Linked DNA regions of Homo sapiens. The protein of the gene in region 3 purifies or fractionates together with the protein of the main gene of each other region. This does not show direct contact. Each region holds a gene or a part of one and is shown on either strand. Other genes may lie near its edges. The genes, in order: TIMELESS, PCDH10, FCGRT and ANTXR1.

Evidence for each region.
Region 1: the proteins of FCGRT (region 3) and TIMELESS purify together in Homo sapiens (affinity purification with mass spectrometry; 2 studies listed by BioGRID and IntAct, with this or other methods). This does not show direct contact.
Region 2: the proteins of FCGRT (region 3) and PCDH10 purify together in Homo sapiens (affinity purification with mass spectrometry; 2 studies listed by BioGRID and IntAct, with this or other methods). This does not show direct contact.
Region 4: the proteins of FCGRT (region 3) and ANTXR1 purify together in Homo sapiens (affinity purification with mass spectrometry; 2 studies listed by BioGRID and IntAct, with this or other methods). This does not show direct contact.

The regions. Positions count from the first base shown.
Region 1 is NC_000012.12:56,418,427-56,425,450, forward strand, and holds part of TIMELESS (protein timeless homolog), read right to left. Parts: intron 6,727-7,024; coding exon 6,589-6,726; intron 6,488-6,588; coding exon 6,336-6,487; intron 5,469-6,335; coding exon 5,371-5,468; intron 5,282-5,370; coding exon 5,158-5,281; intron 5,050-5,157; coding exon 4,848-5,049; intron 4,567-4,847; coding exon 4,421-4,566; intron 3,766-4,420; coding exon 3,680-3,765; intron 3,591-3,679; coding exon 3,473-3,590; intron 3,384-3,472; coding exon 3,301-3,383; intron 3,068-3,300; coding exon 2,925-3,067; intron 2,709-2,924; coding exon 2,537-2,708; intron 2,456-2,536; coding exon 2,387-2,455; intron 2,262-2,386; coding exon 2,143-2,261; intron 1-2,142. UniProt on the Homo sapiens protein: Plays an important role in the control of DNA replication, maintenance of replication fork stability, maintenance of genome stability throughout normal DNA replication, DNA repair and in the regulation of the circadian clock.
Region 2 is NC_000004.12:133,144,785-133,152,293, reverse strand, and holds the start of PCDH10 (protocadherin-10 isoform 1 precursor), read right to left. Parts: upstream 3,001-7,509; 5' UTR 2,154-3,000; coding exon 1-2,153.
Region 3 is NC_000019.10:49,515,642-49,522,665, forward strand, and holds part of FCGRT (IgG receptor FcRn large subunit p51 isoform 1 precursor), read left to right. Parts: intron 1-472; coding exon of another isoform or gene 473-558; intron 559-6,053; coding exon of another isoform or gene 6,054-6,172; intron 6,173-7,024. UniProt on the Homo sapiens protein: Cell surface receptor that transfers passive humoral immunity from the mother to the newborn. Binds to the Fc region of monomeric immunoglobulin gamma and mediates its selective uptake from milk.
Region 4 is NC_000002.12:69,016,179-69,023,202, forward strand, and holds part of ANTXR1 (anthrax toxin receptor 1 isoform 1 precursor), read left to right. Parts: intron 1-7,024. UniProt on the Homo sapiens protein: Plays a role in cell attachment and migration. Interacts with extracellular matrix proteins and with the actin cytoskeleton and thereby plays an important role in normal extracellular matrix (ECM) homeostasis.

The DNA.
Region 1 (7,024 bases), on a different chromosome or scaffold from region 3:
GAATATATATGACCCAATATTGGTGAAGATCCACAAGGGTTGTGAACTCTATTTATTATAATACTTACTATCTAATATATACCCAGTGCCTAGCACAGTGCCTGCTACATTAGGAGGTTCCCAGTTATAGGTTTTTTTGGTTGTTCTTTTTTTTTTTTTTTTTTTAAATGAGAAGGGGTCTGCCTCTGTCACTCAGGCTGAAGTGCAGTGGCACAATCATGGTCCACTGTAGTCTCGATCTCTTGGGATCAAGCTATCCTCCTGCCTCAGCCTCTCAAGTAGCCAGGACCACAGGGGTGCATGCCACCATGATGCCCAACTACTTAAAATTTTTTGTAGAGACAGGGTCTTGCTGTGTTGCCCAGGCCAGTCTCAAACGATCCTCCCACCTCAGCCTCCCAAAGTGCTGGGATTACAGGCATGAGCCACTACACCTGGCTATAGTTGTCAATTGAATAAATAAATAAATAAATAAATCCTGGGGATGTAAAGGTGAATCAGGTATGATCCTTGCTATCAAATAACTCACAATCCAATGGGAAAAAGAACAAATGTACTGTAGTATCACAGGATTTTTTTTTTTTTCTTTTTGAGGCAGAGTCTCACTCTGTTGCCCAGGCTAGAGTGCCGTGGCAAAGCAATAAAGGCTCACCCTCCTGGGTTCAAGCAATTCTCCTGCCTCAGCCTCCCAAGTAGGTGGGACTACAGGTGCCTACCACCACACCGGGCTAATTTTTGTATTTTTAGTAGAGACAGGGTTTTGCCATGTTGGCCAGGCTGGTCTTGAACTCCTGACCTCAGGTGATCCGCCTGCCTCAGCCTCCCAAAGTGCTGGGGTTACAGGCGTGAGCCACCATACCCAGCAGATTCCACAGGATTAAGGCTGCATCAGGGGCATGAACAAATCACAGCTGCAAAAGTGATTATTTTTACTTCAGGGGTTGAAAGAATGACAAGGACTGCTTCTCTGACAAGGTGACAATTGAGCAGACTCTTGAAGACTGGGTAGAGGTCCATCAGTAAGACAGATGGAGTGTGTGTGTGTGTGTGTGTGTGTGTGTCACCCTGTGTGCACGGTTGCAGCCTTCCAATAGAGGGACTGGCATGATTAACCATTTGGAGGCATGAAAAAGCCTACCAGGGTGACTATGATGTAAAGTCGGTGTGTGAGTGGTGTGGCTGTGAGGCTGCAAAGGTTGGCCAAGGATGGGGATGCCATTTGGAGTTTGTGGATTCTGTCCTGCAAGCAGTAAGGAACCATCAATGGCTCTGGACAGAGGACTTGACCCTCCATATCCACAAGTTCTGAGTCTGTGGATTCAAACCACTGTAGATCGACAATATTAAAAAAAAATAACAATACAACATTAAACAATAATACACAGCCTGGGCAACATGGCATAACCCCATCTCTACAAAAAATACAAAAAATTAGCTGGGAGTGGTAATATAGGCCTGTAGTCCCAGCTACTCAGGAGGCTGAGGTGGGAGGATCACCTGAGTCTGGGAGGTTGAGGCGACAGTGAGCTGAGACTGAGCCACTGCACTCCAGCCTGGGTGATGGAGTGAGACTCTGTCTCAAAAAAAAAAAAAAAAAAAAAAAATATATATATATATATATATGTGTGTGTGTGTGTGTGTGTGTATATATATATATATAAATAAAATGTATATATATATATTTACAATACAGTATAACAATTATTTACCTAACATTTACATTGTATAGGTATTATATGTAATCTAGAAATGACGAAGTATACAGGTTGTACCTAGGTTATTTACAAATACTACAAAAAGGGACTTCAGCATCTATAGATTTTGGTATCTGTGGGCAGGGGGGTCCTGGAACCAATCCCCTCTCAGACACTAAGGGACAACTGTAATCAAGACTATATTTTAAAAAGATAAATCTGGAGGCAGTCTGGAAGATGGATCTAGGGGAAGGGGAGATTAGAGAGAGGAAAAGAAGACTAGCAGAATGGCTGCTGCAGGAATCTTGGTCAGAGATGACAAGACAATGAGAAGGACCAAGATGACGATAAGGATAAGGAGGACCACCATGACAGTGAGGAGGAGGAGGAGATGTATTTGGAAATAGGACTAACACGCCTTGGTTGACACTGTAACTGACATATTTACCTGCCCAGAGGCAGGGGGCCGAACCCCTAGCTTGCGCAACAGCTGCTGAAACTGTTCGTTTTCCATGGCTTCCTCATTTTCCTCTGTGAGTGGCACCAATGGAACGGCCTGGGAGCAGCCTAAGACAGGGTCAATAGTCATATGGTGAAGATATAAGGGAAGAACTGGTTCTCCATCCCATGACCAGGTAGGTCTCCAATAGCCTCCAGGGCTCTTCTCCTAAAAGTGTCACCTGTCCACTCACCATCCTCTTCCCGATCATCAGCTGCTCGGATCAGGCAGTTCTGGAGCCATAGGAGCGGGATAGAAAAGCCTAAGGAAATGAGGGAAACTTACATTTGACCCTACTCCCAAGCCCTCCACCTGAGACATCTCTCCCAGCCAAAGTCCTCACCTTCCTGATGCAGGCTTTGACCAAGGTTTTCATTTGAAAGGACTAAGCTACCCTGGACTTGTTCTGCTTCTGAGCCCCCTTCTTCTTCCTCTTCGCTGTCTTCCTCAGGCAGGTTTTCCTCTTCTTCCAGATCTTCCTGGCAAAAATCTTTCAGGGACTCCGCTCCATTTGGCTAAAATTCATTGGGGGTTGGGGGAATGAAAATGAAGGCAACACAAGGAACTTAGTGGAGTCTCCTCGTTCCTGACCACCGCACCCCCCCGCGCCTGCTCTCTCGGAAGGACCTGGTCAGAACAGCCTCAGGCAGGAAGAATCCAGGTGGACTGCTCCTAAGGACCACTTCAAGGGAAGTGAGCCCATGCCAGCAGAGCTAGGGTCAGATTGTTACCAAGATGGAGGATGCCAACTTTTTCTGCCGTTTCTTGTACAGCTCCCGCCGCTCAGCCACCAGCCCCAGAGCCAAGAGTTTATCCACTATTCGGGCCCGTGAGCGTTTGGCTGTGATATTCTTCATGATATGACCCAGGACATCTATAAAAAGCAAGCATGTGAATACCCAAGGGTAACAGGGAAAGAGATGAGTAAAATAAATCAGAGGTCTCTGGAAAGAGGGTACCTCAATTCATCCAAAAATGACACTTACAAATATAGTAAGTGAACAGAAGGGATGGGAGAATCTTTCCTTGGGAATAAAAGGCAGCCCCAAAATAAATGGATAGCTTGGCTTTCATCTCAAAGGTCCCCTGAGTTTCCAGCTTACTCACCATCTGAGTCCCGGAATTCCTCAAAAAGCCGCTGCAGCTCCAACTCCTGATCCCCCGTCCACAGTACAATATGGGTTCCTTTCCTGATTAGGAAGGTGTCAGTGGAAGAGGAAGCCCAGGAAGTGATCACGAGTCCCCATCCCAATAGCCTCCAGAGCATGTGCCTCTCTACCTTTGGAAGTCCTTGACACTGTCAGCCAGTCCCATCTGTACCAGATGGTGGATGATCTGCTTGCGTGTTCGAGGAACAGTATTCAGGTGGGCCAAGATGGCTTCCACCACATCCTGCCCTGGCGTGGGGAAGGACTAAGGCAGTAAAGAAGGTCCCACAGCTCAAGCTGCCCTCCTCATAAACTCTCCAGATCCCAAGGCCTCTCACCTTCCACGTCCTTATTGGCGAGGTACAGCTCCCGAAGATGAGCCTCTTCTTCGGGGCTCCATGTAGGTGCTCTGCGACTGGAAGACCTGAATGGTGAAAGGAGAAAGGGAGCATATAGGTTCTTGGCCCAAAAAGAGGAGACCAAAGGCCTTCTCTGATCAGTTCTGAAAAGAACAGGAAGGACAAGGCAGGTAACTGAAAGAGGCCAGCCAGCAGAGGCCTACAGTGTGCCTCCTTCCCCTCACTTTCCTTCCACGTAAGAACCTAAAAGTCAAACTAAGAGATTTTCCAGGTTGGGCCAATGGAACCCTGACCATTCTGACTCTAGGGACTGAGAATATTATGGGAAAAAGAGACTAAGTGTGAAAGGAGAGGGGCTGAGATACTAAGGGAAAGAGGACAAACATTTCTACAAATCCTCATGGTTTCCCAGCACATTTTGGGAGAGGTCGCACACAGACTCCCTCTGGGCAACCACCCAGCTCCCAACAGTGACTACCTCTATGGAGGCTGGTGATGGAGAAGGAAACTAGATACACACTAGACTTAGGCTCCAGTCCCTGCTCCTCTCTTGGATAACTTTAGGTAAAGCATTTCACCTCCTGAGCCTGTTCTCTCACCCATAATAGGGAAAGAAACAGTGGGCTAAATGACATGCAAGCTCTTAACAGCTTTGACATTCTGTGACTCTGCATCAAACTTCCCCTACCCCCACCCACCCTTTGCCAACTTCAAGCTCACCTGTCATCCAGGGAGCCATAGCCCTCAGTCATCTCTCGAACCACAGCTGTGTTCTTCCAGAACAACAGCTCCACAAAGGCTTTTTGGTTGACTGCAGCCAGTGCAAAAAATTTGCCCAGGATGTATTTGGCAAAAGTCACTAGCTCCTGTAGGAGAAGGAGGTTACTATGAGGCCTCTCTGGTCCAATGCAGACCCGAACCTGGCCCTCTAGGTATTTTCTCTATAGCTGTTCCCAGCTGCCCCCTCCTCACTCACTCTCTTCTGTCCTTCTCCATGCAGCTCCCTCAACCTGCCTGTCTACTTTCTCATTGTTTTCCCATCTCCCAGCCCTTGACACCTCTCAGCACCTTCTATCTCCTGAAGATTATTTATTTACCTGAGGGTTCCCATACCCTTCCAGAACCCCATTCCTTGTTATCCCCTCACTTTGTAGGCTCCAGCAGCAGGGTCACTAAGCAGACGATTGAAGAGGCAGAAGACTGACAGCTGAAAAAGTAGGGCTTCCATTTTGAGGTCATGGGCCAGCCGGTGCAGCATCTTCACAATGCAATGGTTAGTGTGGGCACTATTCTGCTGGTAGCTCCTTAGTAGCAGCACATAGGCTCGAACGACAGTTGAACATGCAAAGCTGCACCAAAACAAGGAGGGAGAGGATGTCAGCATAAGGAAGACATAGCTCATCCTCACAGCCGCACAATCGCCACTCTAGGACCAACTCAGGCCTCTCAGCCCGCACCGTTTCAGGTAGTCCAGAAAATTAAATTCTTTCTCCGACACCTGGACCACTTGCAACTCCTCCTCTTCCTCCTCCTCCTCCTCTTCTTCTTCCTCTGCCCCACGTTCCTCTGGGCCCTGCTGCCCTATAGACAGAGGGAGGATTACTGAGTCTCTGTTATGTTGGTGCTAGAAAAGAGCTGGAAGGAGACAGATGTGAAGGGTGGAGACTCACGGGGAAGTGGAGCAGAGAGGATTTGTTTCAGCAACTGGATCTCTTCCTCTGGAGAAATGTCTTGAGAGCCAAACACATCTCCTTCAGGCCACACCTCCCTGGAGCACAGATAGAAAAAAGGCTTTACCCAGGGGAAATCTGGCTTTAAATTTATAATTCGAAGTAGAAGAAGGAATTTAGACTTATTTCTTTTGTTGGCCAGAAACAGAATGCAAACTGTTACCTCAAATGAAACAAAGACTCCAGGGAAAATTTTCCTCATAAGCCACAATTCAATAAAAACCAGCTAAGAACAAAATGCAAACAATCTAAATGTTTGACACCTGGTTGAACAAATGTACATATTCACACAATGGTGTTTTAAAGCCATTAACAATTACAGAAATATATCTGATGAGAAATCATGCTCATAATATACTGAGAAGTGAAAAATTACTATAAATCAGCATGTACAGTATTTCATTTTTGTAAAACAAGGTATATACGATATTTTTACATGTAACGGAGCAAAAAAACCTCTGGATGGTTACTCATCAAAATGTTAATGATGCATATCTTTGGCTACTAGAATTAAAGTTAAGTCCGCCCTTAATGTCTTCAATAGGTTCTTGGATACTGCCACTTTAAGTGAAACAATGTATAACAAAACCAGTTTTTTTTCTCTTAACGTTATAAGAAACATGCCGTAGGTCATTTTACTCAAAGCTGCAATTACCAAGGACTTATTGATGATGTCAAGTGAGGATTTGCTTTCTTTATTTTTTTCTCAATTAACTATGCTTTTTTAATGTTTTTCAGAAACAAAAAAACCCAACAAACCAATCAAAACGCCCCAGGAGTCAGTTGGTATACAGTCCCAGAGCCTTGATGAGACAACTCTCTTTTGAAGACTGAGAACACTGTACCGCAGTGATGGCCTCCTCCTTCCCCCAAAGCCCAAGAGGATGAGCAGGCAGGGTTCTTACCGAGCAGACCTCAGGAGAGTCAGGGCCTGTGGGGCCTGGCCAGCCAGGAGACAGTCTTGGATCCGTACCATAGCTTCTGCCCGCTGCTCCTCCACTGGCACCTCTGAGGCCGCATCAAAGGGAACCACGGAGTCCATGCTGAGCTCAGAATTCTAGAGATGGATAAAGCTATGGGAGCGGAGGGAGTGGAAAACCCAGATTGTATACCCTGAGCACTATTCTCAAAAAAGACAGGGTTTCTGTAACCACCTACCTGGGCACAGCACTGTAGCTGCTCAGCCAGGGCTGGCCACACAGCCTCCACTTCTTCTGGGCTAGATGGGACATTACCAGAAACAATGGCCTGGTCTAGGACCTTCTTCTTCTTCTTCCTTCTCTTCTTTTGTTTGTTCTGTGGGGAAAGAATTGTATTAGGATGTCAAGAGAGCTAAAGAGGGCTTTCCCCATCAGTGTCTTTTCTATTACAAAACTAATTAACTGGACATTCACAGAGTGCCCATTATCTGCTATCCATCGGTAATAGAAAGCAATAGTGAACAGCATATTTCCTTCCCTTTGAGGAGCTTTTACTCTAGTGGTGGAGACAGGAAGTAGAAAGGTAATTACACTAGAGTGTGGATAAAAGCTATAATGTGAGTGAGCATAAGATGTCATGGCAAAACTCCTGACCCATTTCCTGAGTTCAGAGG
Region 2 (7,509 bases), on a different chromosome or scaffold from region 3:
AGGATGAGGGTGAGGTCTAGCGAGGTTTCCCCGCCGCCAGAGCGACTGGGGCGCTGGTGCTCTCCTGACCCTCCGCCTCCGCTCCCGCCCCCGCCCTGGGGCTCCACGGCGCCATCCACCAGCTGAACCACCAGGGTGGCGGTGGAGGAAAGGGGCGGCTGCCCATGGTCGCGCACCTCGATCACCAGCTCATAAGGCCGCTGGGGGTCGCGCTTGGCCGGGACTCGGCGTGCTGTGCGCAGCTCCCCGGTGCGCCAGTCCATGCGAAAGAGGTTCATTTCGTTGCCACGCACGATGCTGTAAGTGAGCCGGGCGTTCTCGCCGTCGTCCGCGTCCACGGCGGCCACGCGGGTGAGCAGGTAACCCGGCTCCGCCGAGCGGGGCAGCACCTCACGCGCTGGAGTCCCGTTGCGCCCTGGTAGAGGCGCCACGATGGCAGGGGCGTTGTCATTTTGATCCACTATGAGGATGTTGACAGTGGCGTTACCAGCCAGCGCCTGGGGGCTGCCAGCGTCCCGGGCTTCCACCTGAAAACTGAAGTCCTTCAGCTGCTCATAGTCGAAGGAGCGCAGGGCGTACAAGTAGCCGTTCTCAGAGTTGATAGAAACGTAGGTGAAGACGCTCATGCCCTGGATCTGGCACTCGAGGATAGAGTAGGCAAGCTGGGCGTTGGCGCCCTCATCCCGGTCGGTGGCGCTCACCGCGTAGATGTAGGCGCCAGGCACGTTGTTTTCAGTCACATACACGTCGTAGACCGGCTGGCTGAAACGCGGCGCGTTGTCGTTCACATCCGACACTTGTACCTGGATCGACTTACTGGTGGAGAGCGCAGGCTCGCCCCGGTCCCGAGCCACTACAGTCAGGGTGTAGGAGTCCCCCGCCTCTCGGTCCAGGGGGGCTTCGGTAACGATGGTGTAGTAATTCTTAAAGGAAGACTTGAGGCGGAAAGGCACGTCTCCCAGTAGCTCGCACTGCACCTGCCCATTCTCCTCTGAGTCGCGGTCAGTCACGCTGAAAAGGGCCACCACAGTGCCGGGCGCCGCGCCCTCACTCACCGCTTCCTTCACGGTGCTGAAGCTGATCTCTGGCGCGTTGTCATTAGCATCCAGTACTCGCACTAGCACCTTGCAGTGCGCAGGCACGGCGTTGGGGCCCAGGTCCTTGGCTTGCACGTACACTTGGTACACTGGGCTCTCTTCATAGTCCAACTCGCCGCTTACCTCCAGTCTGCCAGTGCGCGGCGAGAGTCCGAAAAGCTCCCGCGCCCGGGGCGAAATGTGGCTGCTGAAGGAGTACACGACCTCACCGTTCTGGCCCTCGTCCGGGTCGGTGGCGTTGAGCTGGATCACGAGAGTGCCTGGGGGAGAGTTCTCTGGTAGGGACACAGTGTAGACGGGTTGGTCGAAAGCGGGCACATTGTCATTGGAGTCCAGCACTCGGATGGTGAGTAGGGCCGTGCCGGTGCGCTGCTGCTGGGGGGGCAGGCCTGCTCCCCCGCCACCTCCCCCTCCTTCTCCTACTCCTCCCCCACCTCCTCCGTCCACCGCGGTCAGCACGTAGCGGTGCACCGCTTGCTGCTCTCGGTCCAGTGGCTTCTCCAGCACCAGCTCAGCGAATCGGTTGCCATCCCCCTGGGTCTGCACGTCCAGGGAGAAGTAGCTGTTGGGGGTGATCTCGTAGTCGCGCAAGGAGTTGGTGCCCACGTCTGGGTCGAATGCGCTCTCCAAGGGGAAGCGAGTGCCTGGCGTGGCGCTCTCAGAGATTTCCACCGTCAGGTCTGGCTCCGGGAAAGAGGGGGGGTTGTCATTAATGTCCAGCACCTCGATCTCCACCTGGAACAGCTCCAGGGGGTTCTCCAGAAAGACCTCCAGGTGCAGGACACAGGAGGGGCTCTGTTTGCAGATTTGTTCGCGGTCTATTTTCTCGTTCACGTACAGCACCCCTGTCTCCAGGTTGAGGTCTAAGTAAGGGGTCCTTGAGTTGGGCACCGTCTGAAACCCGCGAGCCGAAAGTTTTGTAATGTCCAGACCCAGATCTTCAGCGATATTCCCCACGAAAGTGCCATGTTCCTGCTCCTCCTGTACCGTGTAGTGAAGCTGGGAAAAGACTCCTTCCACCATCCAGAGCAAGGCAAACAATAATAGCACAATCATCTCCAAAAGGAAAGGAAGTAGCTTCCCGCAGCCAGTCAGCCACCCAATCACCTCCCCCACCACCACGAAACAAAAAAAAATCTGAAAAAATACAAATAAAAGTGCGCTACGTGGGGGCTCCTGTGGCTTTCTGTCTTTAAAAATCTTACTCCTTTTGCTTCATTTTAGAGCTTCCCGCAATCCAGCCTCATTTTTTTTTAAATCTTAGCACAGGAAGGGTGACAGGCGTCCCCTTTCCTCATCTGTAATCTTTCCACTGACTAATTAATAAAATAACAATAATACAATAGTCAGCGTCCTTTATTCCGACAGTCTTGGCGCTGGCAAATCCCAAAGAGGAAATTTCGATATTTCAAGACTGTCCTCGGTTTGTCTTCTTGCTGATGGGAGGAGAACGAGGAGGAGGAAAAAGAGGAGGAGGAGGAGGAAGAAGAAGAAGAGGAAGAGGAGAAGGAAAAGGAGATGCTGTTGGCACCGTTAAACATGCCTCTTAATGTCAACGGCTGGCAAATGCAAAAGGGCTTAAAATCAGCGATATAATTTTGTGCCGGAAAAGCACAGAACGGCTCTGCAGCTTAAAACTTTCATTCTCTTCATTTCTCCGGATGGATGTTCTTCTTGACATTTTTTTCCTCTTTCGCTCTATTTGTATTTTTTGTCTTTCAGAGTCTTGGTTCCCTCTGTCCTCATCTCCACCGTTACTTGCCTCTCTGTAAGTGTAATGAGCAGTTTCTTTTCTGCTGTTTTCTTCCCAAGCCTCTTTCCCTCTAACCTGTCTCTTTTTCCTTCCAGTCCTTCCTTCCTCCTGCTTCAGCCTCTGAGCCTGTGGTCTGGGCTGGCAGTTTCTGAGCTCCGAGCGCTCGGCTTCTCCGTTTTTGCGCAGCGCCCTCATTCTGCCAACCAATCGCCCAGGAGCACCACCCACCGAGCTGCCGATGATTGGCCAAACTGGCCGCCAAACAGACACGTCACGCGGCAGCCGGGCGGGGCGGGACAGAACTCTCGCCCGAGCGGCCGGGGTGAGTGTGAGTGTGAGAGCGAGAACAGCCCCGCAGGTCCCGAGGCGCTGGCTGGGGACAATGCCGCGGAAAGTTCCCAGTCCCCAGCCGCAGGTAATGGGGAGGGAATAGAGAGGTTCCCCTGTTTGCATCAGCAAATGCGAAAACATAATAGCAACAGCTGCGATATCCTCTCCTAGGAGCGGGATTTCCAATGATGCTAACATTCTTTTTCCTTTAAGGTATTTTCCCTAATACGCATCATGGAAATAAATCATCGAGAAGGGAAAAAGTAGCGCAGGGCCCACTAATTGGCAAGGGTTACCTAATTAAGGGACCCTAGCAGAGACTGGCAGGGCATTTTAAAAGTGAGTATTATATGGCATGTGTCAATCTAAAGGTGAGGGGGTCTGACGGGGCCGTGAGGAAAGGCGCGAAGCATACGGAGTAGGGGGTGGAGGTGACTCCTAAAAAGCGGAGGAATTCACGCTAAAGGATGTGGGGATGACAGCGCTTACAGACGGGCAGACGCGTTCGACGTGCTTCTTTCCTCCCAAAATACATATTCACAAAATACTTACCAAGTAGATTAACTCACTCGAGGACCTAGCTTCGAGCCGTGAGCGCGTTCATCAGTGACTGAGGAGTTGATTTGAGCCGCTTCCTACAAGCCCGCCATCCTAACGCCGGGCTCTGGGGCATCCGGCACACAGCACCGCCAAGCGCTGCAAAGCGCCTCTGATATCCCTGCGCCTTGTGCGGCCAAGTGCCACGCAGCGGCTGGGAACACCGGCTATTTTCTATTTTTTTTTTGGCAATTGGAGATCGATCCCTTTACCCACCATGCTAGATTAGACCACTGATTTCTGCCAATCCTGGGGTCAGCCCGCGGGATGAGGACAGTGGGGCGGCGGCGAACGCGGGCGGGGTGGTGGGCAGGGCCCGTGCACACGAGGGGCCCGAGTGTGCACCGCTGCGGGTATCTGCGAACACGTTTGCACATGCACGGTACTTGCATCCATCCTCCCTGGCCCAGGGCTTAGCTCTGTGTAAGCCCCAACGGAGCCTCCCCGAGTTCCGAAGGACGCGCTTGACCAGCTGTGAGTGCCCCTTCCGGAGGCGCAGGGGCAACGCGGCACATCCACATAGCTAGTTCTTGTGAAGTTAAAACACAGCGCGAACTCTTTAATGCTGGAGAGTGGATAGAATGCCAGTTCTCTAAGGAAAGATCTATAAATATATATTTTTAATTAATGGGCCACTAGCAAGGAATTGGTTGTTTATTCACGAAAGAAGCCCCTATTCAATCTCCTTTTTATGCAAAGAGATAGGAAGGTCCTTTGCTGCTTTCTGGTAATGAATGACCCAAGAATACACCACCACAACCTGCGGGAAAAGTAGAGTCGTTTTCCGACCTGGAGATACGTTGCCATTTCCTCCTGGCAAGGAGTTAAGGAGGGCTAGTGTCCATGGGCGTGATAGTAGCCTGAGACGTGCTTCTGAGAGTCCCGCGAATGCACGTCTACTGCCCTGATTTCCGCGCCCCAACTCCCCGCAACGCCGGGTCCCCCCGGCCCCCGCACTTGGCTCTTTCATGAAGATGGGTCCTGCCTTTGAGCGCTTAGAAGGAAAGGATTCCAGCAAAAATGGCTAATCCTTTTCCAGCTGCAGTAAATTGAAGACTGGCCAAAGCCAAGCGAAAACCGCTGCAGTTAAAATGATTTTAGCATCACGTCTGCGGCTGAGAATGGAGCGGCAGTGTATAAAGGGACCTGTGGATCAATGAAAAGGAGATTATAGTGTATCTGAATATTAATACGGTATTGCATCTGTACTTCCACCCCTCCCCCCTTTCTTTTTCTTCAGATCTGCAGAATTGAAATGAAATGTTTTGAGCTCTTCAAGCTGACTCGTCAGAATCCTGGAGCCTTTTAAAAAATGACGGTAATTTTCTAATGCGTTCATTTGTACGTATGGAAACACTTGTGTGTGTGCGCGCGAGTGCGCGCGTGTTTGCATGTGGGAGACATGCAGCTGAATGACAATGCAGATCCAGAAACTGGGGAAGAGGGTTTCTACCCCTGAAATGTAGATGAAGTTTGAGCTGACTTGGGGCATATGCTGAAAGCCAGAGAGCTTCCAGAGGTGGAGATGAGATGGCCAGATTTGCCTGTAAATAATCACTACATCCACTGTAACACTTGAGCTGCTTTTATTTTTTTTTATTTTTTATTTTTATTTTTGGTAGCAGATGTGTTTGAATGGAACTCTCTCCGCAAACGTGGGTTACAGGCGTCTCCTAGCGGCGAAATCAGCATAGGGCAGGCCAGAGAATTTTGCTTTGGAGAGCTCGCCTTTTGGGGGCTCTACAAGATTTCTTGGGTCATAGGGGTCTGTGTCCGCACCAGCGTCGCTGAGCCCAGGCCCCCTAGAGGTCTCGCCTCTCCGACTTCTAGTCTTTGTGGCGCCAGCCAGGGACCGGCGGAGTGACGGTAGGGTCTTCTTCCCGGCCGAACAGAACAGAGCCTGGTCCTCCGCCTCCCGCTAGATAGCTCCAGCCAAGGGCAATTCCAAGAGCATTTTGTTTGGAGCCAAGATCAGATAGTGGCATTAATAGCCTTCTATGCCCCTTTACCCTAGAGCCTTTAAAACAACCATGCCCCGTCACCCACAAAACAAAACAACACTTTAAATTTGCCTTTTAAAATGCCTCTAAAATGTAACAGGTTTACTTTTTCCCTTGCTGTGTCAATCAAACAGATCCCTGCCTTTCGTTTTTCTTTTTCATTCTTACTCCCGTGGACCCCAGAATTTAGTGAGATGAGGTTTGTATATACGGCAGCCTCAGTAATGAGGCTGACTACCTCTTTGAAGTGTAGAGCATCATGTATATTCTGTGTTCCTCAATCCCCCCGTTACTGGAGCGGAAAAGGAGAAGGAAATATTTTGTACGTAATCCCTTCTTCACCCTCCCCCGTCCACCCCCTAGGAGCGCAAACTGTTTGAGCCAGGACAAACTGCACCCTAAGAAACAGAGGAATAGTTTTATTATTTGGAGGGAGGTTATCAAAATCAGTTTTCATAAAAGTCCTGGTTTATATATTAGAGTGATAGTGCACATTTTTTATTTCATTGGGCTTTAAGTGCAGCAGAAACAGGGGGGCGCTAAGGATCCCACAAGTGTGTTTTACAAACTTTGAAACTGGGTTAAGGGATTGCTTTCTTCTCTGCCCTTTGCTGCAAAGGGTGGGGCAGAAACAAGTTTGTTAACCAGCCTTTGGATAAATGAGTGTTTGCAGTGATTTAACATGACTTGAAAGCAATTTGTTTCTAAATCCTCTTATTATTGCTATGTGCCCAGAGCTTTGAGGGAAGTTTTTTTTTTTTTTTTTTTTAGAATTGGAAGGAAAAATTACTTTATCAATAACCAGGCTCCACCAGGATTGACCTAGATGGTTGTTCCTGGCACTTGTCATTCTCAGCAAGCACAGCTCAGAGAACAAATACAAAAGACCCAAAGTGCATTGCATCTTTTATGGGTAAGCATGAAATAGGTTTATTTGTGGTAGTGTAATCTAACTTAAGAGGTGGGAAGACAAGGCTTTGGAACCAATGCCACAAACATTGTGTTAGTTTTTGTTCATCTATAGTAAAAAGTGAATGCTGACTGGAATTTCTGGGAAAGATTTATAGCATATGCAATTTTAAGTATTCAGGTAACTCTTTAGTTACTGTGTTTTAATCCTTCAAGCCCATCAGAGAACAAACCAATCCTTGTTCTTGGGATTGAAAATACTAGATATCCCATCAAGCACCATTATCTTGATATTGAAAGTAGAAATGTGCTTCTCCATTTTGTTTAACCTAGTTAATATTGGGGTGGCTTCACATTTCAGTGCCTTTTCAGTTATCAAGCAGGGACAACATTTTGTTAAACTCTAAACAGTGAATTAAAAGCACTGAATGAGCTGAAGCAGCCCTCTAATGCAAAATGACAAATTGCACTTAAGCAATACATGAACAAAAAATGATTTATGGATTTTTACAATGGTCTGAGCAAATGAAAGCAACATGAATTATACATCCTAATGCTCACAATATCATTTTCTAATAATACTGTTTCAGTTCAGATACTATACTCTGCTCCTTTCTGTAAGAGAAATTGATCAATAAGAGGTCCAGGAATGTTTTTAAATTGGGCACTGGTTTGTGATACTGATTCCAAAGTGTGTGTGTGTGTGTGTGTGTGTGTGTATACATATGCATATATATATGTGTGTGTGTGCATATATTTTCTTTTGGTTTTGGGGAGGTGGGTTGATGACAGACATTGAACATGCATTCTTGTCAGATTCTTC
Region 3 (7,024 bases):
GACTCAAACTCCTGGCCTCAAGTGATTCTCTCACTTTGGCCTCCCAGGGTGCTGGGATGACAGGTGTGAGCCACTGTGCTTGGCCTTCCTTGCCTTAATGTCCTCATCAGACCCACGCAGCAGCACTTGTCTCTACGCAGCCATCAGAGTCTACGCTCCAGCCACCCAACATAAGCAATCTCCTCCCTCTGGGCATTTGCTCATCCAGTTTCCCCTGGCACCTCTCTGTTCCACCCTTCCCCCTCTCTGCATATACTCCAGCCCTCCTTATTCTTCAAGGTCAGGGCTGGATATCACTTCCTCTGAGAAGCCTTTCCTCAGCTCTGTAGGGCAGAGTTCACTGTTTCCTCCCCGGAGGCCCCCAGATCCCCACTCATTCAACTGTTGGCCAAGAGCATTTGCACTGCCAGGCGCTGCTCTGGGCCTTGAGCAAAGAGGGAAGTGACACACATTCACCCTCTGTGGCTCCCAGGCTGCTGGACAAAGATAGATACCAGCTGGGGATGTGCACAGATATTCATTCCAAGTGCCACAAAGGAGAAGTTGAGACTCAACCAGGTAGTTTTTCTTTAATTGTCTTCTTTCTTTCCTAAGTAGGGAAAATTTCTTTCTTTTTTTGAGACAGAGTTTCGCTCTTGTCGCCCAGGCTGGAGTGCAATGGCGCGATCTCGGCTCACTGCAACCTCCGCCTCCCAGGTTCAAGTGATTCTCCTGCCTCAGCCTCCCGAGTAGCTGGGACTACAGGCGTGCACCACCACGCCTGGCTAATTTTTGTTTGTTTTTTTTTTTTTAGTAAAGACAGGGTTTTACCATGTTGGCCGGGATGGTCTCGATCTTTTGACCTCGTGATCTGCCTGCCTCGGCCTCCCAAAGTGCTGGAATTACAGACGTGAGCCACTGCTCCTGGCCTTTGTTGTTGTTGTTGTTGTTTTTGAGACAGACTCTTGCACTGTCGCCCAGACTGCAGTACTGTGGCGCAATCTTGGCTCACTGCAACCTCCGCCTCCCAGGTTCAAGCAATTCTCCTACCTCAGCCTCCCGAGTAGCTGGGATTACAGGCACACACCACCATGCCTGGCTAATTTTTGTATTTTTAGTAGAGACGGGGGCTTCACCATGCTGGCCAGGCTGGTCTCGAACTCCTGATCTCGTGATCTGCCTACCTTGGCCTCCCAAAGTGCTGGGATTACAGGCATGAGCCACCACTCCTGGCTTAAGGAGGGAAAGTTTCAAACCACACTTAAGTAGAAACAATAGTATAAAACGGACCAGACACGGTGGCTCACGCCTATAATCCCAGAACTTTGGGAGGCCGAGGCAGGTGGATTGCTTGATCCCAGGAGTTCAAGACCAGCCTGGGCAACATAGTAAGACCGCATCTCTACTAAAAACTCAAAAAATTAGCCTGGCATGGTGGTATGTGCCTCTAGTCCCAGCCACTGGGGAGGCTATGGCAGGAGGATCGCTTGAGCTCAGGAGTTTGAGGCTGTAGTGAACTGATTGCAACTCTGCACTCCAGCCCAGATGACAGAGCCAGACCCTGTCTCAAAAAGAAAAAAAATATGGTGGCCAGGTGCAGTGGCTCACGCCTGTAATTCCAACACTTTGGGAGGCCGAGGTGGGCAGATCACTTAAGGTCAGGAGTTTGAGATAAGCCTGGCCAACAGAGTGAAACCCCATCTCTACTAAACATACAAAAATTAGCCGGGTGCGGTGGTGGGTGCTTGTAATTCCAGCTATTCGGGAGGCTGAGGCAGGAGAATCACTTGATCCCGGGAAGCAGAGGTTGCAGTGAGCCGAGATCAAGCCACTGCACTCCAGCCTGGGCAACAAAGCAAGACTCTGTCTCAAAGAAAGAAGGAAAGAAAGAGAGAGGAGAGGGAGAGAGAAAGAGGAAGGAAAGGAAGGAAGGAAGGAAGGAAGCGAGCATCCCATCACTGAGACTTAATAATTATCAACCCATGGTTTTTTGAATTTCACGCACATCCTCACTCACTTCCCCACCCCACTTCACATCAAGCTTTGGTAAATCTCAGACATCACAGTGTTTTTTTCTTTGTTTGTTTGTATTTTGAGATGGAGTCTCACTCTGTCATGCGGGAGTGTAGTGGCTCAGTCTCGGCTCACTGCAAGCTTCGCCTCCCAGGTTCAAACAATTCTCCTGCCTCAGCCTCCTGAGTAGCTGGGATTACAGGTGCCCGCCACCTCGCCCAGCCAATTTTTGTATTTTTAGTAGAGATGAGGTTTCACCATATTGGCCAGGCTGGTCTTGAACTCCTGACCTCGTGATCCACCCACCTTGGCCTCCCAAAGTGCTGGGATTACAGGCATAAGCCACCGCGCCTGGCCAATTTTTGTATTTTTAGTAGAGACGGGATTTCACTATGTTGGCCAGGCTGGTCTCGAACCCTCCACCTCAAGTGATCTGCCCTCCTCAGCCTCCCAAAGTGCGGGAGTCACCGTGCCCAGCCAGACTGTTTTGTTGATAAGTCCTTTAGTATGTAACTCTACTAGGTAAGGGCATTTAAAAAAAATTAATACCAAAACCATCATCACACCTACAACCAATTAACTCTTTAATGGCATCAGATGTCCAGTTTTTGTTCCCATATTCCTGACTGTAAATGTTTTTTAAAGTTTGAATCAGCATCCAGCAAGGTCCACACATTTTGTTGTCTTTTCAGTGTCTTTTTCTGATTGTTGAATTTTTCTTTCTTTCTTTTTTTTTTTTTTTTTCCTTTTTGAGACAGGGTCTTGCTCTGTCACCAGACTGGAGTCCAGTGGTGCAATCATAGCTCACTGCAGTCTGAACTTCCTGGGCTCAAGTAATTCTCCCACTTCAGCCTCCCCAGTAGGTAGGACCACAGGTGCACGCCATCAGGCCTAGCTATTTTTGTTTGTTTGTTTTTTGAGACAAAGTCTTACTCTGTCGCCCAGACTGGAGTGCAGAGGCACGAACTCGGCTCACTGCAACTTCTGCCTCCCGGGTTCAAGCAATTCTCCTGCCTCAGCGTCCCAAGTAGCTGGGATTACAGGCGCAAGCCACCACGCCCTGCTAATTTTTTGTATCTTTAGTAGAGACAGAGTTTCACCATGTTGGCCAGGCTGGTTTCGAACTCCCGACCCCAGGTGATCCACCCACCTCGGCCTCCCAAAGTGCTGGGATTACAGGCGTGAGCCACCGCGCTCGGCCGTATTTTTGTTTTTTTCTTTTTTTTGGAGACGGAGTCTCGCTCTGTCACCCAGGCTGGGGTGCAGTGGCGCGATCTCAGCTCATTGCAACCTCCACCTCCCAAGTTGCACCAATTCTCCTGCCTCAGCCTCCCGAGTGGCTGGGACTACAGGCGCCCACCACCACGCCCGGCTAATTTTTTGTATTTTTAGTAGAGACAGAGTTTCACTGTGTTAGGCAGGATGGTCTCGATCTCCTGACCTCCTGATCCGCCTGCCTCAGCCTCCCAAAGTACTGGGATTACAGGCTTGAGCCACCGCGCCCGGCCGGATTCCAATTTTTTACCAGATAGGTGTTTTGCAAATATTTCTTCCACTCTCTAGGTTGTCTTTTCATTGTTTTAACTGTGCCTTTCACAAAGCAAAAGTTTTTAACTTTGATGAAATCCAGTTTATTCTTTTTTTTTTTTCTATCGTGGATTATGCTTTTGGTGTTTAATCTCAGAAGTAATCACCAAACCCAAAGTCAGCTAGATCTTCTCCTGTGTATTTTAAGAGTTTTAAAGTTTTGCATTTTACAGTTAGGTCTGTGATTCATTTTCAGGTAATTTGAGTTACTTGTGATCTTGAGTGTCTTTTGATTTACAGGTTTCCCATTTTCTTTTTGTTTTTTTTCCCCCTGTAATTGTGGTTTGAAGAAAGTCAGTTTATGTCCTATTGAGTTTCTCCTAGACTGGATTTTGCCCTTTGCATCCTGTGATGTTGCTGGAAATAGTCCTCCTTCTCTTCTTTAAAGGAGCAGCTCCATCTAGAAGCTTGGTCAGATTCTGGTTCAATTTTTATGGCAAGAAAACTTTCTGGGTAGTTGGTGCGTATGTCTGTGTGCATAGGCTGCAAACATCTGCTTGCTTCTGTGCTGTTCTGTGGACCACTGGATTCGGGTGTTGTTATGAAGTTCTTTGTCAGGTTTTCTCCTGATGGTTTTAGCGGATAGCAATGGCCATTGCCTTAATCTTTTTTTTTTTTTTTTTTTTTTGAGATGGAGTCTTGCTCTGTCGCCCAGGCTGGAGTGCAGTGTTGCGATCTTGGCTCACTGCAACCTCCGCCTCCCAGGTTCAAGCGATTCTGCTGCCTCAGCCTCCTGAGTAGCTGGGATTACAGGTGCGTGCCACCATGCCTGGCTAATTTTTGTATTTTTTTTGGAGAGATGGGGTTTCACTATGTTGGGCAGGCTGGTCTTGAACTCCTGACCTTGTGATCCACTTGCCTCGGCCTCCCAAAGTGCTGGGATTACAGGCGTGAGCCACCGCGCCCGGGCTTTTTTTTTTTTTTTTTTGAGAGGGCGTCTCCCTCTGTCACCAGGCTGGAGTGCAGTAGCACGATCTCGGCTCACTGCAACCTCCACCTCCCAGGTTCAAGTGATCCTCCTGCCTCAGCCTCCTTAGTAGCTGGAATTACAGGCACACACCACCACACCCAGCTAATTTTTGTATTTTTAGTACAGACAGGGTTTCACCATGTTGGCCAGGATGGATTTTTTTTTTTTTTTTGAGATGGAGTTTCACTCTTATTGCGCAGGCTGGAGTACAATGGCATGATCTCAGCTCACTGCAACCTCCGCCTCCTGGATTCAAGTGATCCTCCTGCCTCAGCCTCCAGGGTAGCTGGGACTACAGGCATGCGCTGCCATGCCTAGCTAATTTTTATATGTTTAGTAGAGATGGAGTTTCACCATGTTGGCGAAGCTGGTCTTGAACTCCTGACATCAGGTGATCTGCCTGCCTCAGCCTCCCAAAGTGCTGGGGTTACAGACGTGAGCCACCATGCCTGACCTGGTTTGGTATTTTGTTAAACAGAACCAAAGGCCAGACAGATTTTCTGTGCTTGGATTTAGTCTATATTGGAAGTACCTTGAGGCTGAAGGCACGTGGCTGTGAGCACGACACAGGAAGATACAGATTTGCTGAAAAGAATAGTGAACATAAAGCAGAAGCCAGAACTGCTGATGGCCGTCAGCCCGGTCCCTCCATTCCACCTGACGGTGCAGCAAATTCTGCCGACTTGCCAGAGAGGCAGCTCCAGGAGGGAGAAGCTGCTGTGCTTTCCTGAAGCAGCAAATGTGTTTTCTGCTGAGCAACCAAAACCAAGATCCCAGCCAAGACCCACGATTGCCCAGATCCACCCTCCCTGAAAGGAACTTGGGCAGTAATGCCCAGTCCTAGGCAGTTGCTGAAATCTTTGCCTTTTATTTTCTTTTTTGAGCTGGGATCTTGCTCTGTCGCCCAGACTGGAGTGGAGTGCAGTGGCACAGTCATAGCGCCATGTAGCCTTGGACTCCCAAGCTCAAGAGATCCTCCCGCCTCAGCCTTACAAGTAGCTGGGACTATAGGTACACGTCACCATGCCTGGCTAACATTTTCTATTTTTTGTAGAGATGGGGTATTTGTTGCCAAGGCTGGTCTAGAAGTCCTGGGCTTGGCCGGGCACAGTGACTCACGCCTGTAATCCCAGCACTTTGGGAGGCTGAGGCAGGCGGATCACGAGGTCAGGAGTTCAAGACCAGCCTGGCCAATATGGTGAAACCCTGTTTCTACTAAAAATAGAAAAATTAGCTGGGCGTGGTGGTGTGCGCCTGTAATCCCAGCTACTCTGGAGGCTGAGGCAGGAGAATCGCTTGACCCCAGGAGGCGGAGGTTGCAGTGACCCAAGATTGTGCCACTGTACTCCAGCCTGGGCGACAGAGACTCCGTCTCAAAAAAAAAAAAAAAAAAAGGAAAAGAAAGCCTGGGCGTAAGGATCCTTCTGCCTTGACCTCCCAAGTGCTGGAATTGCAGGCATGAGCCATTGCACCCGGCTTTTTTTTTTTTTTTTCTTTGAGACAGGCACTTGCACTGTTGCCTAGACTGGAGTGCAGTAGCGGGATTAGAGTTCACTGCAGCCTCAACCTCCCAAGCTCAAGCGATCCTCCCACCTTACCCTTCCTGAATGGATGGGGCCACAGGTGTGTACCATCACACGTAGTTAATTTTTAAACTTTTTCAGAGACGGGGTTTCTCCATGTTGCCCAGGCTGGTCTTGAACTCCCGGCTTCCAGTGATCCTCCTGCCTCAGCTTCCCAAAGTGCTGGGATTACAGGCATGAACCACTGCACCCAACCTTTTTTCATTCCCTTAACGAAACCTTTGGATGAACAAAAATTCTTAATTTCAGTGAAGTTCAGTTTATCGACTTCAATTTATACATTTTATAAAGTTTATGAATTTTTTTTTTTTTTTTTAGACGGAGTCTTGCTCTGTCGCCCAGGCTGGAGTGCAGTGGCTATACCCAGGTGTGATCATAACTCACTCCAGCCTCAAACTCCTGGGCTCAAGGATTCCTCCTGCCTCAGTCTCCAGAGTAGGTGGGACCACAGGCACATCCACCACACTGGCTAATTTTTTTTATTTGTAGTGGAGACTACGTCTTACTGTTTGCCCAGGCTGGTCTCCAACTCCTGGGTTCAAGTGATCCACCTCATTCTCCCAAAGCGCTGGGATTGTAGGAGTGAGCCACTGCACCCAGCCTGTCTGCTAATATTATGTTTAAGAGTTCTGAATCTTTTTTTAAATTTTTTAAAATTTTTAATTTTTTATTTTTTTTGAGACAGTCTTGCTCTGTCGCCCAGGCTGGAGTGCAATGGTGCAATCTTGGCTCAATGCAACCTCCGCCTTCTGGGTTCAAGCGATTCTCCTGCCTTAGCCTCCTGAGTAGCTGGGATTACAGGTACACGCCACCATGCCTGGCTAATTTTTTTGTATTTTTAGTAGAGATGGGATTTCACCATGTTGGTCAGGCTGGTCTCGACCTCCTGACC
Region 4 (7,024 bases), on a different chromosome or scaffold from region 3:
CTAGCCATATGTGACTCGAGCACTTGAAATGTAGTTAGTGCGATTGAGGAAGTGAATTTTTAATTTTATATAAGTTTAACTAATTTGAACTTTAATAGCCACATGTGGCTACCATACCGGATAGTGCAGACAAGAAGATAATTTGGCGACACATATAAAATGCTTTTAAAAAATGAGGGGTGTTCCTTTCCATCGAGCAATTTCATGTCCTAAAGAAAAAAAATCCAAATAGTCACAAAGAAGTACCTACATGTATGTTTATGGAGGTGCTGTTTATAATAAAAAGCTGAGGATTACATGTGTCTAACAGCAGTGGATTTACTAAGGTATGATATGTGTATAGTATTGAACCTGCATTGCATGTTATACAAGCTTGTAAGCTATTTTAGGAGAAATACATAATTCTTAACATACTATACACTTTTAGATGGAAATGCAATTACCAAACGTCATCTGCGTTATGATTCCACCTGTTTAAAAAGTTAAACACACACATGTGTATGTCTCTATTTACCAATATGGTACTACTATTTGTCTCTAGCAGGTAGAATTTTAAATTTTGTTTACATGTTTTTCTTAATTTTTCTGTACTGAACATACATTACTTTTATATTCAACAAAAATAAGTTATTTTGAATTTGTTTTGAAAATCATGTCAAGTGGGTCTCTAAACAGTGTGCTCACTTCCAAGCCCCTTGCTGTTGTAAAGGATGCTGCTGCTTTTATATTTAATCCTGGAGTAAATGTCTGAGTGCATCATAGGATTCTATGAAGCACATTGGAGACCCAAAAATGCTCCAGGAAAAGAAATGGTGGGGAGACCTTTACAGACATTCAGGTGGATGCCTCTGACTTCCTTTAGCTGTTCTGTTGCTGGAAGAGAAGGATATTTTTGTGCTGAATGAAAAACTTGCTAGAACTTGGTGCGGTAGTGCACACTCCACCAGCTTACCACCTCCATCCAGGCTAATTTATGAGATTGATGAGTCCAGAGCTAGGGGATGGGCCAAAACGCAGTGGTGGCAAACAGACCCCTGGGTGGTCGCTAAAGACATGATCTTCTGTCCTAGAGAGAACCTCCTCACACAGTGCTGTCCAGCACCCAACCACAGCCAGAGTGGAAAGTGAAAAAATGCTGACTCATTTTTTCCTTGGGCTTCTTAGATCCTTTCGCTGGCAAGACACTGTCTACAGTCTGAAACCGAGGGATCATAGGGGACTGAATCCACCATTCTTCTCCCAATCCCTGCAACTCCTTCTTCCCCTGCAACTGGTTCTCTTTTCCCATGACATTAAATCTCAGCTCATTTCAGCTTTAAGCAAGCTGCATCTCTGGCCTGGAGGGAACCCAGATTATACATTTAATGGAACGTCATGTTTTCTCAACCAGGAGCAAAGACTTCATAATGATAACCTAGAAAATACCACAGTAACACAATAGGGCATTATTAGTGGCTTTGGCGACTGGGCTGGTGGACTGGGCTGCACAAGGCTTTATACTGATGGAATTTCATGTTCACTTAAACATGCTTTTCTGGTTATAGTCAGGAAAAATAGATTGCTGGGAATTCAGTCGGGGATTTGAAAAGTTAGATTTGGAAGGCTCTGTTCAACAAAAAGCAAAGAAACAGCTAGCCTCTTTTAAGTCTTCCAGGGGATCTTCCAAGATGAATGCACCCATTTGACCAACCCACAGACATAACTACCTTCCCTCTCTCACAGCACCCCCCCACCCTCTCTTATTACGTATATGTTTATGTATTACATATTGGACTATTTTACATGGAGCTATTAGTCACTTGAATGGAGATAGTGGATTCTGCATCATGAATCTCAAGTGGCTGGCTATGTTATGTGTGCCCTGAAGACTTCAAAAATAGAATGTGGGAAAGAGAGCAGGAGGAGTGGAGATGGTGGTCTGGAAGGCAGGAGTAAACGCTGAGCAGCTTTATTTATAGGACTTGCCAAAGCCACAGCCTGTCATTCATTTTCTGCACCTAATAAATCCTTATATGTCTAAAGGCCCCCCACAGGCTCACCATGTGCTCCTTCCCCGTAAGACCTCCGACTCCCCCTGCCATTTCCCTTCTGTTCGGCACCAGTTTTCTTTTTCTTCCACTGTACAAAGGGATTCCATGTTGCCACTCCCCCAGAGTTCCAACCACAGCACCCACACCTGGATGATGCCCTGCTGGTGCTGATTTGCAGGACCACTGTTATGTGTTGTACTCCAGGGACAGGATCATCAGATAGATTTTTGTAGCATTAGGCTGGAAATTTCCCCATCAGGTATAGTACTGGCTTTTTTCTGGGAAAATATCTTCTGAGTTCCCAACTACTAACTTACAAAAGAAATACTGGATTGGGAACTTGTGTGAGTCTTGCAGACTCATGCTCTCTCACAAGGGTCCCAAAGACAACCTTGTTTGGTAGGTAGGGCGAAGCATGACTGTCCCTAATTTGAAGATAAGAAAACCTTTGTTCAGTCCACTGGGTTAAGTGACTTGCCCAAGGACCTAGGATTAGATCACGACAGAGCTAGGACAGTGTCTGCCCTTGACTCCCAGACCAGCTCTTTCCACTCATCTTCCCTGTAGAGTTGGGCCATAATGAGAAGCACATGGCAATACAACTAGAGGAACTGGGTAGATTCCAGGAATTCAAAATCCCCGCATCAGAGTTTCAGTAAATCATGGTGCATAAGGCGATTAAAGTTACTTAATTGAGGAGCTACTACTCTGCTGTTAAATCAGCTGTAGTTGATGGAAAGTATCAGGAACTCCAACCCCCTGCAACCCAGAGAAATGCTCCAGAGATCTAGGGGGTTAATTGATGAGTCAGACTTTAAGGTGTGTTCAGGACATTTTATTATGATAAATTCGTAATTTGTTCAGACTGAATCTGATAGAAAAAGGAAACTGAAGTCTGTAAATATGCTAAAACACACAGATGTAGCTTATTTTCAGAAATACATTGGAAGATGGCTTAGTGTCTGCAAAATTGGCTCTGAATAAGGAAAGCAAAGAGTTCAATAGAAGGCACCTTGAAGGTGCTACAATCAGATATTTTTTATATTTTTGGATTTTAATTCGTATAAGTCTTGTATATTTATTGTTAATTTCATTCCTAAGTATTTGATCATTTTGGTTATTGTAATGGGAAATTTTCTTCCATTTTAACTTGTTTGCTCTTAGACATATAAAGAGTATAAGTATCTGTGTTGATTTTGTTGTGAATTATTTTACTGTTTCAAATAATTTCCTAGTTGATTCTCTTGGGTTTTCTGGATATATAATTATATAACCTGCAAATAACAATTTTATCTCCTCTTTTCTCATTTCATACTCTAATTTCTTTTTTTCAACTTTTAAGTTCAGGGGTACATACAAACCTGCGCATCCTGCATATGTACCCCTGAACTTAAAATAAAAGATGTTAAAAAAAAGAAATTACATAAGAATGTGTCATGGAGTTTTGTTGTACAGATTATTTCATCACCGAGGTATCAAGCCTAGTACCCATTAGTTATTTTTCCTGATCCTCTCCCTCCTGTCACCTTCCACCCTCCGACAGGCCCCAGTGTCTGTTGTTCCCCTCTATGTGTCCATGTGTTCTCATTGTTTAGCTCCCACTTAACAAGTGAGAACATGCGGTATTTGGTTTTCTGTTTGTGCATTAGTTTTCTAAGGATAACAGCCTCCAGCTCCACCCATGTTCCTGCAAAGAACATCATCTCCTTTTTTATAGCTACATAAAATGCCATGGTGTATATATACCACATTTGCTTTGTCTAATTTATCATTGATGTGCATTTAGGTTGATTTCATGTCTTTGCTATTGTGAATAGTGCTGCAGTGAACATATGCATGCATGTATCTTTATAATAGAACAATTTATATTCCTTTGGGTATATTCTCAGTAAAGTGATTGGTGGGTCGAATGGTATTTCTGTCTTTAGGTCTTTGAGGAATTGCCACACTATCTTTTACAATAATAATTTTAAAGGGCATCAGAAAAATAGTTATCAGGGGCCAGGAATTTCTTTTATTATTATTATTTTTGTATTGAGGTGGACTTAATGCTTGGTTTTAAATGCTCCTCTAATTAAGTTCCACATTTGGAGAAGGCCTTTGAGGCCAGGCAAGAGTTGGTAGAACTGCCTGCAAATTGGATAGTTTGGCATATGGGTCAAAAATAAAAATAAATAAGGCAAAACTGTTTTGTTTTGTTTTGTTTTGTTTTGTTTTGTGTTTCTGTCTGGGTCAGCCAAGTAACTACCTCTACTTTATTTAGCTGTGGAGACCTGGTTAAACTCAGTGTCAAGGAGTGTTGGAGGAAGGCACCTGTCCCAAGATAACCTGTAATTATGTCCAAATGCTAAAGGATTCCTAGTGGTCCAGAAACAAATTCTGGGATCAATTAGGGAGACTTGGCTGTCACATAAATGCAAATGGGATTTGCTCTATGCTAATTTAGAATGTGTGTCTATGTTTGGTATGCGGCCAAGAGACTGGATCTTGCCTCTCCCCCTGATTACTCTGCAATAAAAGACAAAGAGAATATTTAAACATTTGTTGACACGTTTTTCAGACACGTCAGGTTCATACTGAAAAAGTAATTAGATTTCTCCAATTTGACTCAGCAGATTCTTCCATTCATTTGGCATAGATGACATACTCAGTTTTGATCACAAGTGTGTACTCCAATACATGCGTGGATGAAACAATGCCTATTGCAAGCAATGTCCTGCTATGGGAGGTAAAAGGAATGCAAAATAAACAGGAAGAAGTCCCAGGCTGTCAGGTTTTTATGGAGAAAAGTTAGAGGACTCTAGGCAGCCAGAGCTAAAGGCTTCAGTGAGGATTTGGGAAAGGGGCCAAGTAAAGTCAATTTTAGATCAGTAAGAAATAAGAAGTAACATTTACTGAACCCTTGCTACCTGCCAGACGCTATAGTAAACACTTTGCCTGTATGACCCTGTTTAGTGTTTACAACCCCCATAAGGTCTGTACAGTCATCATTACCATTTCACACGTGAGGAGACCGAGGTTTAGAGAGGTTACCCAAGGTCACTCTGAATGGTGAAACTAAGTCTCAAACCCAAGCCCCTCTGACTCATAATCTATGCACAAAGTTAAAAAGAATCTAAATATGCAAAAGAACATTGAATCAATCAAGGTAGGTCAGGTTATGCTGTGATAACAAATAACCCCCGAATCTCAGTTACACAAAACAACAAAAGTTTTATTCTCTGCATATACTACATGTCTGATAGGAGTCAGCAGGGCTCTTCTTATGGTGATGGTTCTGGGAGCCAGGCTGGTGGAGATTCCTTCCTGATACCTCCTGCCACCATCAAGGCTGCGAGGGAAGAGAATGCTAGATGATGTCTTGCTGGCCATGAAATGCTCCAGCCAGAAGTGACGTGCATCCTTCTCCTCACAGCCTGTTGGTCAGAACTGGTCAGATAGCCTCACTTTATGGAAAAAGACTTGAAGAATAATCCTCCATGTGCCTAGATGGAAGGGAAAGCCAGATATGGGTGGACAATAAAAGCTTCTACTGAAAACGTATAATTATAGCTTGCTTTGGCTTGAATAAGCAAGAAAGAAGTAGCCATTGAGAGAGAATAAAGAGATAAGACTTCTGGAGAAAGGTCAGTTTTGAGCCAAGTCTTGGATATACAGCATTCATCAACCTAGAATTACTGTCAGACGTGATGTTTCAAATATGCCCAAGAGGCAATGATAGCTCCTTCTCTTTTCCTCCCTTCCCCATTCTCTGCATACTTTAGATGAAATATTCAGTGAGGTGGGCGGGGGATTAAATTAGATTAAATGGAAAGTAGAAATGGAGATTAGACATGCTCTCCTGCCACCTAAGTATTACATGAATATATTTGAAAGATAAAACTCTCTTTTTCCATAGTTTATGGAATACGAGGGAATTTGAAAGGCTGGGGAAAGACAGCAGCCCATGGAACACAGACCACTGCAGCAGCAGAGCTCAGAGGATGCCTGTACACTGCAGGGGCTGATTCTGAGTTTGAATCAAGAGTATCTGGGCTCCTACTAGTGCTTCTCAATGAGGGTGCTGTTAGCATTTTTGATGGGACGGTGTTTCATTGTGATGGACTGTGGGATGCTTTAGCATTCCTCATCCTTGCTTTCTAAATACCATTAGCCTTTCTGGTCATTGTGATGACCAATAAATAACAGCCTCTATACTTATTTCTAAGGTTGGTACCACCTTGGTTGAGAACTCCTGACTAAAAGAAGGCAGGGCAGAGCAGGGTATGCCATTGATGTTGATTCCTAGCATCCAAGAACCACATCTGGGCATTTGTCTGAAGGAAGAAATTGGGAAGCTTCCATGATAAAAGCTCCAGTGGAAATTGTAGACCTTGGGAATGAATATGCTAAACTGAGGTTCTCAACCAAGGGCCAGATCACAACTTCAGAGGCCTGAGGCAGACGTGTATTTTGGAAAAGCTTCCCAGGTGATTCTGATTCAGGTCCCTCCCTCAGTGAGTCATAAGACTGAACAGGAAGACAAGAAAAGTTGCCCCATAATGATGGCTCATGGTTATGGCCTTATGATGAGGATATAGCTGAGGCAGCACACACCTTGGAGCTGGGCTATAGGCAGAGCTCTTATTTTAGATGGTGGCAGAAGAAACCACACACAATATGAAGGCAGAAGAGCAAAGGTCACTGAGAGGCCATGTTTTGCCCTTCAGTGTTGCCAGGTCCTGCTGTGTGTACATATACATTTAAGCCATGTTGTTTACTAGCCAGGACACTCCTTTGCTTCCTTTCTCATAAGTCTCCCTACATGAAATGTGCCTCATGGGAATGCTTAACACAGGGCTTAAGAAGGCCACCTTCGGAATCAGGCATCTGCAGCTTTAAATATCAGCTCAATGCTTCAGCAAGCATTGTGACCTTGGGCAAATTATTTAGCCTCTCCGAACTTCAGTATTGTTAATAAAATAGGCATTAAAATGTCTGCCTCACAAAAGTGT